2 linked regions of the Homo sapiens genome follow. The protein of the gene in region 2 interacts with the protein of the main gene of each other region in a biochemical or structural test. Each region holds a gene or a part of one and is shown on either strand. Other genes may lie near its edges.

The links. Proteins that work in one complex are often made in the same cells at the same time.
Region 1: of the proteins of MARCHF1 (region 2) and INSR, one has a biochemical effect on the other in vitro, tested with the Homo sapiens proteins (one study listed by BioGRID).

What each region holds. Positions count from the first base shown.
Region 1 is NC_000019.10:7,284,410-7,291,436, forward strand, and holds part of INSR (insulin receptor isoform Long preproprotein), read right to left. Parts: intron 1-7,027. UniProt on the Homo sapiens protein: Receptor tyrosine kinase which mediates the pleiotropic actions of insulin.
Region 2 is NC_000004.12:163,527,019-163,534,045, reverse strand, and holds part of MARCHF1 (E3 ubiquitin-protein ligase MARCHF1), read left to right. Parts: intron 1-4,999; coding exon 5,000-5,298; 3' UTR 5,299-7,027. UniProt on the Homo sapiens protein: E3 ubiquitin-protein ligase that mediates ubiquitination of TFRC, CD86, FAS and MHC class II proteins, such as HLA-DR alpha and beta, and promotes their subsequent endocytosis and sorting to lysosomes via multivesicular bodies.

The sequences.
Region 1 (7,027 bases), on a different chromosome or scaffold from region 2:
GGAAGAGTAGAGAGCAGGGCTTCAGCACCCTGGGGGGCATTTGAAACAGCCCCATCACCAACTGAAAGCACAAAAATGCTAAAAATGTGGCACCAAATAACCACAAAAAGGACTCAGGTTTTTTTGTTGTTGTTTTTTGTTTTGAGTCTCACCCTGTCACCCAGGCTGGAGTGCAGAGGCACAATCTCGGCTCACTGCAACCTCCACCTCCTGGGTCCAAGTGATTCTCCTGCCTCAGCCTCCGGAGTAGCTCGGACTACAGGCGCCCGCCACCACACCTGGCTAATTTTTTGTATTTTTAGTAGAGACAGGGTTTCACCATGTTAGCCAGGATGGTCTCGATCTCCTGACCTCGTGATCCACTCGCCTCGGACTCCCAAAGCGCTGGGCATGAGCCACTGCGCCTGCTCAAAAAGGACTAGTTTTAATCCTCAGTGTGCAGATTGTATGAATCTGACGCATAAGGGCTGAAGCAAGAAGGTGGAATGCCCTCTTACTTGACCTCACATTTGAGACTCGTACTTATGAGTGTCCTAAAATGACCAGAAAGGCACTGAGCATGCTGGTTTGAGGGTTACAAATACATTTGAGTGAGTAGGTGAATTCAAAAATACAGGGTCTGGGGCCAGGTGCAGTGGCTCATGCCTGTAATCCCAGTACTTTAGGAAGTCAAGATGGGAGGATCACTTGAGGCCAGGAGTTCGAGACCAGCCTGGGCAACATAGCGAGCCCTTATCCCTGCTGAAAAGTTAAAAATTAGGCCGGGCACAGTGGCTCGCGCCTGTAATCCCAGCACTTTGGGAGGCTGAAGTGGGCGGATCACTTGAAGCCAGGAGTTTGAGACCAGCCTGACCAACATGGTAAAACCCCATCTCTACTAAAAATAAAAAAAACTAGCCGGGCATGGTGGCGTGCCTGTAACCCCAGCTACTAGAAAGGCTGAGGCAGGAGAGTTGCTTGAGCCCAGGAAGCAGAGGTTGCAGTGAACCCAGATCACACCACTGCAGTCTGGCCTGGGCAACAGAGTTAGTGAGACTCCGTCTCAAAAATAAATAAATAAATAAATAACAATAAAAACTAGCTGAGCATGGTGGTGTGTGCCTGTAGTCCCAGCTACTCAGGAGGCTGAGGCAGGAGGATCGTTGATGCTCAAGAGTTGGAGGCTGCAGGGAATTAGGACCACACCACTGCACTCCAGCCTGGGTATCAGAGCAAGAACCTGCCTCTCAAAATAAAAATTTAAATTTTAAATTTTAAAAAGAAAATATGGGATCTGGGAATGATGAGGATCAACCAGACTCAAATTTAAAATTTCAACTTTAGGAATATTAATCCAATTATAAGATAAAATCTTTTAAAGTCTAGAGAAAACTATAGGGATGGAGAACAGATCTGTGGTTAGGGGTGGAGGTGGTTTAGTGATAAAGGGGTGAATTGAGGGAGTTTGGACAACAACGAGACTGTTCTCTATCCTAATTGTGGCAATAGCCATACAACTCTACACATGGCTTAAAAATCATAAAATGGTACACCTTTAAAAAGCCAATTTTACTGTATGATAATGTTTAAAATATTTTGTTGTTGTTGTTGTTACACAGTCTCACTATGTCACCCAGGCTGGATGCAGTGGTGCAATCACAGCTCACTGGCGCCTCGACTTCCCAGGCTCAGGTGATCCTCCCACCTCAGCCTCCCTAGTAGCTGGGACCACAGGTGCTCACCACTGTATCTGGATAATTTTTTTGTAGGGTTTTGTAGAGACGGGGTCTTGCTATGTTACCCAGGCTGGTCTTGAACTCCTGGGCTCAAGAGATCCACCTGCTTCGGCCTCCCAAAGTGCTGGGATTACAGGAGTGGCCCCATGACACCTAGCCTAAAAAATTACTAAACATCAAAAAGATACATAAACCAATGGCACAGTTACCTCCCTGGACATGAATGGAATGCTTTTGGGGACAGGGGGACAAGATTTTTTTTTATTATTTCTTTTCTTTTTGAGACAGGGTCGGGCTCTATCACCCAGGTTGGAGTGCAGTGGCATGAATATGGCTTACTGTAGCCTCAACCTTCTGGGCTCAAGCGATCCTCCCACCTCAGCCTCCTGAGTAGCTGGGACTACCGGTACACACCACCATGCTCAGCTAATTTTTAAACTTTTTCTAGAGATAATGTCTCATTATGTTGCCCAGGCTGGTCTCAAACTGCTGGCTTCAAGTGTTCCTCCCACCTCAGCTTCCTAAAAAGTCCAGGGATTACAGGTGTGAGCCACTGCACCCCACCACAAGATTTTGCAGAAGGACTTCTGTGTTTTTTTTTTCCTTTCTACACTTTTGTAATTTTTCTTTTTGCAATGAGAATGCATTACCCGTCACTATTTAATTAAAAACTGTAAATACCATGCAGCTGCAAAATATCAACCAGGCCACCCCAAGAAGTATTCTTTTTTTGTTTGAGACAGAGAGAGGATCTCACTGTTGCCCAGGCTGGAGTGCAGTGGTACAATCACAGCTCACTGCAGCCTTGCCCTTCCAGCCTCAAGAGGTCCTCCCATCTCAGCCTCCCAAGTAGCTGGGACTACAGACACATGCCACCATGCCCAGCTAATTTTTGTTTTATTGTTAGTGGAGACAGGGTCTTGCTGTGTTGTCCAGGCTGATCTGAAACTCCTGGACACATGTAATCCTCCCACCTCAGCCTCCCAGAGTGCTGGGATTGCAGGCATGAGCCACTGCACCTGGCCAAAAATATTCTTTTTTTTTTTTTTTTTTGAGATGGAGTTTCGCTCTGTCACCCAGGCTAGAGTGCAGTGGCGCAATCTCGGCTCACTGCAACCTCCACCTCCCAGGTTCAAGCGATTCTCCTGCCTCAGCCTCCCAACTAGCTGGGATTACAGGCATGCGCCACCACGCCTGGCTAATTTTGTATTTTTTCAGTAAAGATGGGGTTTCACCATGTTGGTCAGGCTGGTCTCGAACTCCTGACCTCAAGTGATCCACCCACCTCGGCCTCCCAAAGTGCTTGGGATTACAGGCGTGAGCCACCACACCTGGCCCAGAAGTATTCTTAACAGAAATTAACACAAGAGAGGCCTGAGAGAAAAAAAAAAAATCTCATTATATACACCAGTTATATTTTGGGTTCTAGATACAGGGTTGAGAGCATGAAATCCTCATTCAATGCCAATATAGCTGTTTAAATAAATACACATGGCTAAGTAGGCAACATCACGGTGATTTTTCTCATCCTTGGAATCCGTATATTCAGTGCAGCAAATGACACACGTTTCTTTAACATCTCTTGCGGTGTAAAGAGAAAGACATAGCGTTTCATTTCACTCACTTCATTCGAGTTGTACCAGGGACTGCACAAGCTATTAGGCATGCTATCATGAATGAAACCTCAAGGCGTCTGTTCCAGATCAGAGGTCAGCAAACGCTGTTCTGTAAAGGGCCAAAGTGTAAATATTTTGGCCATGGAATTCCTGTTTTAACTACTCAACCTGCCGTGTCGGGGCATTTTTGCGCAGTCATAGATGATGAGTAGACAAATGAGTGTGGTTGCATGCCAATAAAACTGCATTTACAAAAACCGTGGGATTTGGCCTGAGGGCCATAGTTTGCTGACCCCTGTTCAGATGAAGAAGTCGGAATCTATGTAAATTTCTTAGCTGGGCGCAATGGTTCCTCATGCCTATAATCCCAGCACTTGGGAGGCCCAGGAGGGAAGACTGCTTGAACTAGGAGTTCAAGACCAGCCTAGGCAACATAGCAAGACCCTGTTTCTACAAAAAAAAAAAAAAAGTTTTAATTAGCCAGGCATGGTGGTGACTGTCTGTGAGCCCAGGTACCCAGGAGGCGGAGGCAAGCAGGTTGCTTGAGGCCAGGAATTCAAGACCAGCATGGGCAACATAGCTAGACTCTGTCTCTACAAATAAATTTTAAAAATTAGCTAGTCATGGTGGTGCCTGCCTGTGATCCTAGTTTCTCAGAAGGCCAAGGCAGGAGGCTCACTTGAGGCCAGGAAATCAAGACCAGCCTGGGCAACATAGTGAGACTCTGTCTCTACAAACAAATTTTTCAATTAGCTGGGCATGGTGGCACCTGCCTGTGATTCCAGCTACTTGGGGAACCTAGGTGGGAGGACTGCTCCAGGCCATGACTTGGAGGCTGCAGTAAGCTAGGACTAAACCTCTGCACTCCAGCCTGGGTGACAGAGCAAAATCCTGTCTCTAAAAAGAAATAAAAATTGGAAAAAAAAAAAAAAAAAAAAAGGGCCGGACACGGTGGCTCATGCCCGTAATCCCAGCACTCTGGGAGGCTGAGGTAGGTGGATCTCTTGAGGTCAGGAGTTTGGGACCAGCCTGGCCAATGGGGTGAAACTCTGTCTCTACTAAAAGTACAAAAACTAGCCAGGCGGGGTGGCACATGCCTGTAATTCCAGCTACTGGAGAGGCTGAGGCAGGACCATTGCTTGAACCCAGGAGACGGAGGTTGTAGTGAGCCAAGATCATGCCATTGCACACCAGCCCGGGTGAAGAAGTGAAAAAAAAAAAAAAAAAAAAGTGAGCTGAGAGAAGATTAAAGGAAACACTGACCCTCTGGGAAGAGAGAGCCAACATCTTAGCCCAGGTAGAAGGAGAAGAGAACAGTAAAACAGAAGAACTTAGGCACAGGTGAGACGGGAGACACAGCCTTCCAGGAGGGGGGACTGGCAATGTCAAACCCAGAGGGGTCAAGTGAGGTGAGGCTGCAGGAGACGCAACTGGGAGATGAGAGATTAACTTCGAGAGCCATCGGTAAAGCAGCGGAGATGCAAGCCAGATGCTGGGGGCAGAACAGTGAGAAAAGAGTGAGATGGAAAGGGCAGGGAGGACTGGCCTGGGGAAGCTGGACAGGGTGGAGGCTGGAGGTCAGTGGTAGGTAATGGGGATTGGGGGGTACTGGGTGTTTAGAGGCTGAAAAAGCACGTGGGTAAATGAAGATTCTTTTTTCTTTTCTTTTTTTTTTTTTTTTTTGAGACAGAGTCTCTCTCTGTTGCCCAGGCTAGAATGCAATGGTGTGATCTCGGCTCACTGCAAGCTCTGCCTCCCAGGTTCAAGCGATTCTCCTGCCTCAGCCTCCCAAGTAGCTAGGATTACAAGGACCCGCCACCACACCTGGCTAATTTTTGCATTTTTAGTAGAGATGGGGTTTCACCATGTTGGCCAGGGTGGTCTCAAACTCCTGACCTCAGGGGATCCGCCCACCTCAGCCTCCCAAGGTGTTGGGATTACAGGCGTGAGCCACTGCACCCGGCCGAGGATTATTGAACAAAGAGAGGAGAAAGAGCAAGAGCCCAGATGGGTAAATGTCTCAGACAGGGAAAAGGTTAACTCCTGCAGAGACGTGCCTGGCAATGTCTGGAGACATTAGTGGTTGTCATGCCTGGGGGGAAGGGGATCCTCCCAGGACCACATGGGTGGAGACCATGGTTCCAGCTCAACACTCTACATACAGGACAGCCCCCACCACCAGGAATGATCCAGCCCCAAATGTCAGCAGTGCCAAGATTGAGAGTTCTGCTTAAACCAAAGAGGAATGGAAGTCAAGGGTAGAGTGGGGTGAGGTGGGGAGCCCTGGGGACTCAGCCCACACCCTGTGGTCTCTATGCATGAATGGGGAAGGGCAAGAAGCAGGTCTCCAGGAGAGAAGCAAAGAATAAGAATAACTGCAGAGGCCAGACACCGTGGCTCATGCCTGTGATCCCAGCACTTCGGGAGGCCAAGGCAGGCAGATCGCTTGAGGCCAGGAGTTTGAGACCAGCCTGGACAAAATAGCAAGACTTCAGCTCTACACATTAAAGTAAAAATTAGCCAGGCAGGGTGGCGTGTGCCTGTGGTCCCAGCTACTACGGAGGCTAAAATAGGAGGATGGCTTGCGTCCAGGAGGTCGAGGCTGCAGTGAGCCATCATTGCCCAACTGCACTCCAGCCTAAGCAACAGAGCAAGACCTCATCTCAAAAAATAATAGATAGCTAGAGAGATAGATACAAAAATCACACTGATTTTCCTCCACCCTTCATCCCAATCAAAATGCCATATTGGGCCCGGAGTGATGGCTCACACCTATAATCCCAGGTCTTTGGAAGGCCGAGGCAGGCAGATCACTTGAGGTCAGAAGTTTGAGACCAGCCTAACCAATATGGCGAAATCCCATCTCTACTAAAAATACAAAAATTAGCCAAGGGTGGTGATACACGACTGTAATCCCAGCTACTCAGGAGGCTGAGGCAGGAGATGCACTTGAACCTGAAAGGCGGAGGTCGCAAAGATCGTGTCACTGCACTCCAGCCCGGGTGACAGAGTGACACCCTGTCTCAAAAAAAAAAAAGAAAAAAAAAAAGGCCAGGTACGGTGGCTCACTCCTGTAATCCCAACACTTTGGGAGGCCGAGGCGGGTGGATCACAAGATCAGGAGGTCGAGACCATCCTGGCTAACACAGCAAAGCCCTGTCTCTACTAAAAATACAAAAAATAAGCCGGTGTTGTGGAACACGCCTGTAATCCCAGCTACTGGGGAGGCTGAGGCAGGAGAATCCCTTGAACCTGGGAGGTGGAGGTTGCAGTGAGCTGAGATCGTGCCACTGCACTCCAGCCTGGGTGACAGAGCAAGACTCCGTCTCAAAAAAAAAAAAGCCATATTGGTTGACATTAGAGATTAATGATCTGAAAAGTTCTTTGCCCCTCCCCAAGCCTTCAAGAGGCATCACAGCCCATTTATTTGACAGGATTTTGTTCACCATCACCCCAATCGTGGGGGGTACGGAGGCTCGGACTCAAAAGAACAAAGATTTGTTAAGAAACCATTGCTCTGCAGCCACACTAGCTAGATTGCAATCCCAGCCCTGCTGCCTGCTGGCCTCAAGCGAAGTTTTCTCACTTGTGAAAAGGGAAGATTAAACCGCACCTCGTGGGGTTTTGCCGTGAGGATTAACTGAGATTATATATGCAAAGCGCATAGAACAGCACCTGCTGAGAGCTTGCTCTTCT
Region 2 (7,027 bases):
CAGCTACCCAGATAGGACTTTGGATAAAGTTTACTAAGAAAGGCACTGGATGAGAGAAATCAGGCAGCTGAGGATGACGATAAAATAAATAGAGGTATAGATCATGAGCATTTATTGTGCAAGACTGCAGCAAATTTTAGGCACAATAAACTCCATTGGGCATGGCTAAAAAGAAATGGAGTGTTTTTGTGCAATAGTTTCCATAAATATATCATGCATACATTACCAATTTCCAAATACCTAAATGCTCACAAACCCATCTCTTACTCGAAGAAATTCTATAAACTGACCTAGACACAGTGATGAATTCATGGAACTAATCTCTCAAGTAAGGAGCTAATATATATAAATATATATATATATATTATATATAAAAGACTATTTTTGGAGCAGATTTAGGTTAACAGAAAAATTACAAAGAAGGTAAAGAGAGAGTTCCCACATACCACCCTGCACATACACAAGGTTTCTCCTGTTATTAACATCTTGCCTCAACGTGGTACATTTGTTACCACTGAGGAGCCAATATTCTTACATTATTAAAGTTCATAGTTACATTGGGGCTCACTCTTTGTGTTGTACAGTTCTATGAGTTTTGACAAACGTGTAACGTCCTGTGTCCACCGTTACAGAATCATACAGAATGGTGTTGCCGCCTTAAAAAGTCCCTGTGTTCCACCTATTCATCCCTTCCTTTCTCCTCCTAAACTGTTGGCAAACACTGATCCTACTATCTCCAGTTTTGCCTTTTCTAGAATGTCACATAGTTGGAATCACGCAGTATGTAGCTTTTTCAGACTGACCTCTTTTATTTAGCAATATACATTTAAGGTTTCTTCGTGTCCTTTTGTAGCTTGATAGCTCATTTCTTTTTAATCACTAAATAATACTCCATTACATGGATGTATCACAGTTTATTCATTCACAGATTGAAAAACCACTTGGTATTTCCAGCTTTGAACAAATATATGAATAAAGCTGCTACAAACATTTGTGTGCAGGTTTTTGTGTGGACGTAAGTTTTTGTTCATTTGAATAAGTATAATGTTGTATCATTTGAAAAGCTGTGGTTACCATTGTAAAAAACTGCCAGACTGTCTTCCAAAGTGACTGTACCATTTTGCATACCTATCAGCAATGAATGAGAATTCCTGCTTGTCGTTCCACATCCTTTCCAACGTTCAGTGTTTTCAGTGTTCTTTTTTAAAACTTTAGCCATTCTAATAGGTATATAATGATATCTTGTTTTAATGTGCAATTCTCTAATCACATATATTAATAATCTTACCATCTGTTTATCTTCATTGATGACATATCTGTTCAAATCTTTTGCTCATTTTGTAATTAGGTTATTTTCTTATCATTGAATGTTAACAGATCTTTGTATATTTTGGATACAAATCCCTTTTTCAGAATATGTTTTGCAAATATTTTTTCCTGTGGCTTTTCATTCTCTTAACAGTGACTTCCTCAGAGCAAAAGGTTTTAGTTTTAATAAAGTCCAATTGATCCATTTTTCTTTTCATAGATCATACTTTGGTCACCTGAATTTTCTTATCTTTTAGAAGCTGTATAGTTTCACAGTTTACATTTAGTTCTATAATCCATTTTGAGTTAATTTTTGTGAAAAATTTAAGGTCTGTTTACAGACTCATTTATTCGCATGCAGATATTGTTATACCAGCACCCATTTGTTAAAAAGACTATCCCTTCTCCATTGAATTGCCTTTGCTCCTTTGTTAAAGATCAGTTTCCTATATTTGTATCAGTCTATTTCTGGGCTATTCTGTTTCAATGATTTATTTCTTTATTCTTTCATTGATACCACACTGTCTTGATCACCGTAGTGGTAGTAATCAAGGATAGTGTCAGTTTTCAAAAACTTTATTCTTCCACTTCAATATTGTGTTGGCTATTCTGGTCTTTTGCTCTCCATATACACTTTAGAATCAGTTTGTCAATATCCATAAAATAACTTGCTGGAATTCTGAATGGGATAGTATTGAATCTGTAGATCAAACTGGGAAGAATAGATATCTTAATAATATAATATTAAGTCTCCCTATCCATAAATGTGGAACATCTTATTTCATTCAGATATTCTTTTATTTCCTTCATCATAGCTTCATAGTTTTTCTCACATAAATCTTGTACATATTTTGTTAGGTTTACACCTAAGGTTTTTGTTGTTGTCATTGTTTTTGTTTTGTTGGCACAAATGTAAATGGGCTTATGTTTTTAATTTCAAATTCTGGTTGTTCACTGCTATATATAGGAAAGCAATTGACTTTTTGTAAAACTTTGTATCCTGCAACATTGTCATAATCACCTATTTAAAAAAAAAACTTAATCAGTTCTTTGAGATTTTATACATAATCATATCATTTGTGAACAAAGATAGTTTTATTTATTCTTTCTCAATCATCTTTTATTATTCTTGTTTTATTGCATTAGCTAAGACTTCCAGTGTGATGCGGAATAGGCATGGTAAGAAGGAACATCCTTGTCTTGTTCCTGATCTTAGGGGGAAAGCATCTAGTTTCTTACCATTATGTCAGCTATAGGTTTTCTATGTTCTTTATCGCATTAAGGAAATTCCCTTCCGTTCCTAGTTTTTATCATGATTGAGCGTCGTATTTTGTCAAATGTGTTTTCTGCACTTATTGATATATTCACATTTTTCTTTAGCTAATTGATGTGATTACATTGATTTCTGAAACTTGAACCAACTTTGCATACCTAGAATAAATCTCTATTGGCTGTAGTGTGTAACTGTTTTTATACATTGTTGAATTCAATTTGCTAATATTTTGTTGAGAATTTTTGTATCTGCTCATGAGAGATACTGGCCTATAACTTTTCTTCATAGTAATTGTCTTTGCCGAATTTAGTATTGGGTAATGCTAGTCTCACCCGATTAGTTAGGAAGTATTATCTCTTCTATTTTCTGGAAAAGACTGTAGAACATTGATGTCATTTCTTCTTTAAATGTTTGGTAGAATCCACTAGTAAAACTATTTGAGCTTGGTGCTTTCTGCTCTGAAAGGTTATGGTTGATTTAATTTCTTTAATAGATCTAGGGATATTTAATTATCTGCCTATTAATTACACCTGCCACTGTAATGATCTCTTATTTCTCCTGTGTGAGCTTTGGCCAATGATATTTTGAAGTATTATTTCCATTAGGATTAAGTAAATATTCAAGATGATGACTACTATGAATTATTCAAGTCATAAAGAAGTCCTTGCGTATTAGGAGTTAGTTAGAAAAAATTTACCTTTGCTACCGGTAAAGGTTCTAATAAATTTGATTGCATATATTTAATCTACTCAAAAACTAAGTTCAGATTTGATTGCTGAAAGAGGCATAGAAATTTATTTTAAATTGACAGTGCCAAACAGAGCAACAAATTAATGAAACATCAACAACAGTGAGAGGCTTTTCATGTTTTCTTACAATCCCTTTTAAGATCAGAGAACATTTTTTCCCCAAAAATTTCAAAGGAAGAGTCAGAGCCAAAGCATTTTGAAAAGAAAAAGAGTTTACTTGAAAAGGTTCAAGGGAGTCAGACTTCAGAAAAACTGGATAAGCAAGTGAAAAATATAACAGGTATTTAAAGAAAAATATAAAGAAGATTACCATGATTACTAAGTTTGCATTAATTTGTTCATGGAGAAAAAACAAAATCTTATCACATGATGATCATATTCAGAAAGATCTTGCAACATGAGCTAAATAAAAGTCAAGAATAAAATGGTGTTTGCTGGGGATCTGGGATTATAAGAAATACTCAATGTTTCATTATTTTGGGACCAGAAATTGACAGGGTAACGCTGTTATTTTTGGTTAATCTTAGGGTACAAGGTGCTTCATCATGATGGAAACAAACAGGGCATGATTTCTGCTTTGCTTCCAGAAGCATAAAGCAAATGTCACTACTACAAAATATAGATAGGATATTTCTTATAACTCTAATCACTGTTGTAAGTAAATAAAAATCCAAAGTCAAATCATAGACTCTCAATTACCATGGTTTTTACACATTTCTACCATCCCTTCCTGGTGCACTGTATTGAGCCATACTGAGCTATATTTTTCTACTTCACAACTTTTCACTTACGGGAAGACAGCTATTGTCCCCCACACCACCCTAATGTGGGCAAGAGGACCACTTGACCCTCATATATTTAACACTCTTGACCCTCATATATTTAACATTCATAATTATGTATTGCCTAAATACTCACTGTTGTAGTCACTGAAATGCCTGTGAAATAATTTTTAAAACTGTATTTACAAAAGAAAGCCTATTTCTAGTAATGGTGATGGAAATTAAGAGAAAATATAGACATCTATAAAAGTGTGATGGTTCTCAATGACAAAATATGATTTATGAAACAAATGGCTAAAATCCTAAATCTTTTGCATGTTTGTACTCAGGAATTCTCTCTCTGGTGAGATGTGGCAGCTTTTTCCTTCCCCTCCCTCTTACTCCTCCCCATCTCCCTTCTTCCATTCCTTCCTTTCCTTTTACATTTTAAAATAAATGAGGGTGGGAAGACCTGTACATACAAACCCATACATGTACCTATACCTCATCTTCTTAGAAGGATTTTAAACTCTGATTCTTCCATTATGTTCACCATCCTTCCTTAAAAGTCTAGCTATAAGGGATAAATGTCAGTGTCCAAATGTCCAAAATCTAACATAATATCTCATAATTATGATAGGTACTTGATGCTAGGAGAAATAAGAGATTTGACAGTGATAGGTGAGAAAATGTCCTGATATACAATTTTGACAGTACATGTAGGATACTCAAAAGGAATTACGCCAATTCGGGTTATAATTCTTTCTAGTTATGAAGAATATATTATTTCTGTTAACATACATAATCTAGAAGGCAAGCACGGGCTTTTGAAGGGTCATAGAAAAAAAAAATGACCAAATCCACTGAGGACAACTTGGTGATAACATTTTCTCTTTTTCATTTCAAAGGTGTCCTTGAATGGCCATTTTGGACAAAACTGGTTGTGGTAGCCATTGGCTTCACAGGAGGTCTTGTCTTCATGTACGTACAGTGTAAAGTCTATGTTCAGTTGTGGCGCAGGCTGAAGGCCTACAACCGTGTGATCTTTGTACAAAATTGCCCAGACACTGCCAAAAAACTGGAGAAGAACTTCTCATGTAATGTAAACACAGACATCAAAGATGCTGTGGTAGTGCCTGTACCACAAACAGGTGCAAATTCACTGCCATCTGCAGAGGGTGGCCCCCCTGAAGTTGTATCAGTCTGATGGAACCTGTTGGGAGTTTCTTCACCGAAGAATATCTTTCTAGCCCTCAGCCACTACAAATGACAGAAGTGATCTTGAATTATTTACTCCCTTCAGCTCCTCCTTTCTCCTACTGACACATTTTTCCTGACTTTGTTCAAAGAGGAAAGGAGAAAAACAAACAGACCAAATGCCCAGGAGCCCATGAAGTAATAGCGTAAAGTAAAGTATGATATGGAAATGTGAAGTTTGCAAGAGAATGATTTCCAAGACAATTAAGAACTACTGGGGCAATGAATGCTTTTAGGCAGTAATCAAAGATTAAATGGACCCATGATACTCTTCTTCACAGTAACAGGGGAAAAGTTCAAGAATACAGACTTGAATTGCGATGTGTATTACTTCTAGGGCCTTGTAATGTTAACTGTCTCATCTGGAAATAACTAACATATTTGGTTTTAAGCCTGAAATTGTCTGCATTATCCCTAAGTCACATTGGAAGTGAACTTGGAGGATGCATATTTTGATATGCTTTGACAGCTAACAGATTTGTATGGTTTAGTGGAGTCTGGTTATTTTGACAGATGCATGTTTTTTTTAAATAGATGCAATATACATTTGAAGACATTGATATTTGGAATTAATTACGTTTGTTTAAGTCACGCAAAAGATTTTCAGAAAATGTTCGGATATAATTAGCTCTGTTAAATACCCACAGAACTGTTATCAGGTCTTATATTTATTTTCATCTGGTTCCTCTAATACAGTGCTGTCCAATAGAAACACAACAGCCACAAATGCAGGCCACAGATGCAAATATTTAACTTCCCAGTAGCCCTATTTTAAAAAGTAAAAATAAATGTTTGTTTGTTAAAATGAATTTTGATTTTTTAAAAACACTATATGTTATTTCAACATGTCATCAATATAAAAAATTGATTGATTGATTGATAGTTTACATCTGTTTCTTGAACCAAGTTTTCAAAATCCAGTTGGTAATTTAAAAGTACACTTCAACTTGAATTAACTATATTGGATAGCACAGCCGTAAAATTAGAGACTAAGCTTCTGCTTTATTTAACAGTTGTTGAGTATTTCAAAACAGTTTAATTCATTCTTTTATTTCAAAGTCACAAAAGTTAGTTATGATTTTTAAAAGCATTAAATTAAGTGTCCTCATTTTAAAGTCAGATGAAGTTCACATCTCTAAAGGGTAAAAATCCAAAAGTATAGAAAGATAAAACAATCAATCTGCCTATAGCAGAGTTGTGAAATAAATAAATTGTTACTATGAAGTACTTACAATAGGGGAATAAAATTACCTATTTTTGTTATTAAATCAAATGTGTAAGGCTTATTTCATCCATATGAGGTGTCAACTTGACAGATGATGAGTAATTATGACTAAGAATCTAGCCCTTACTTTTAAAAGCTGACAGGATTTCCCTTGCTCAGTTAGAAAACAAAAATATTCAACAGATTCTGTGATAAGTAATTAATCGTTTAGGTTTGACAGTTGATTATTGTGTTCTTTGCATATTCATGTAAAACTGATGTGTGAATGACATTGCAGTGAGCTAGATTAACGGTGATTATAGATACAGTAGCCTGTCAAAGAAAGATGTCCTACATTAAAAAAGGTGACTTATTTTTGTTAGCTGTCATTATTTATTAACATGAAAAGGCAATGATGGCCATAAGAACCAAAGCATGAGTATCACACTGCACAAATCTGGGTATCACATGGATG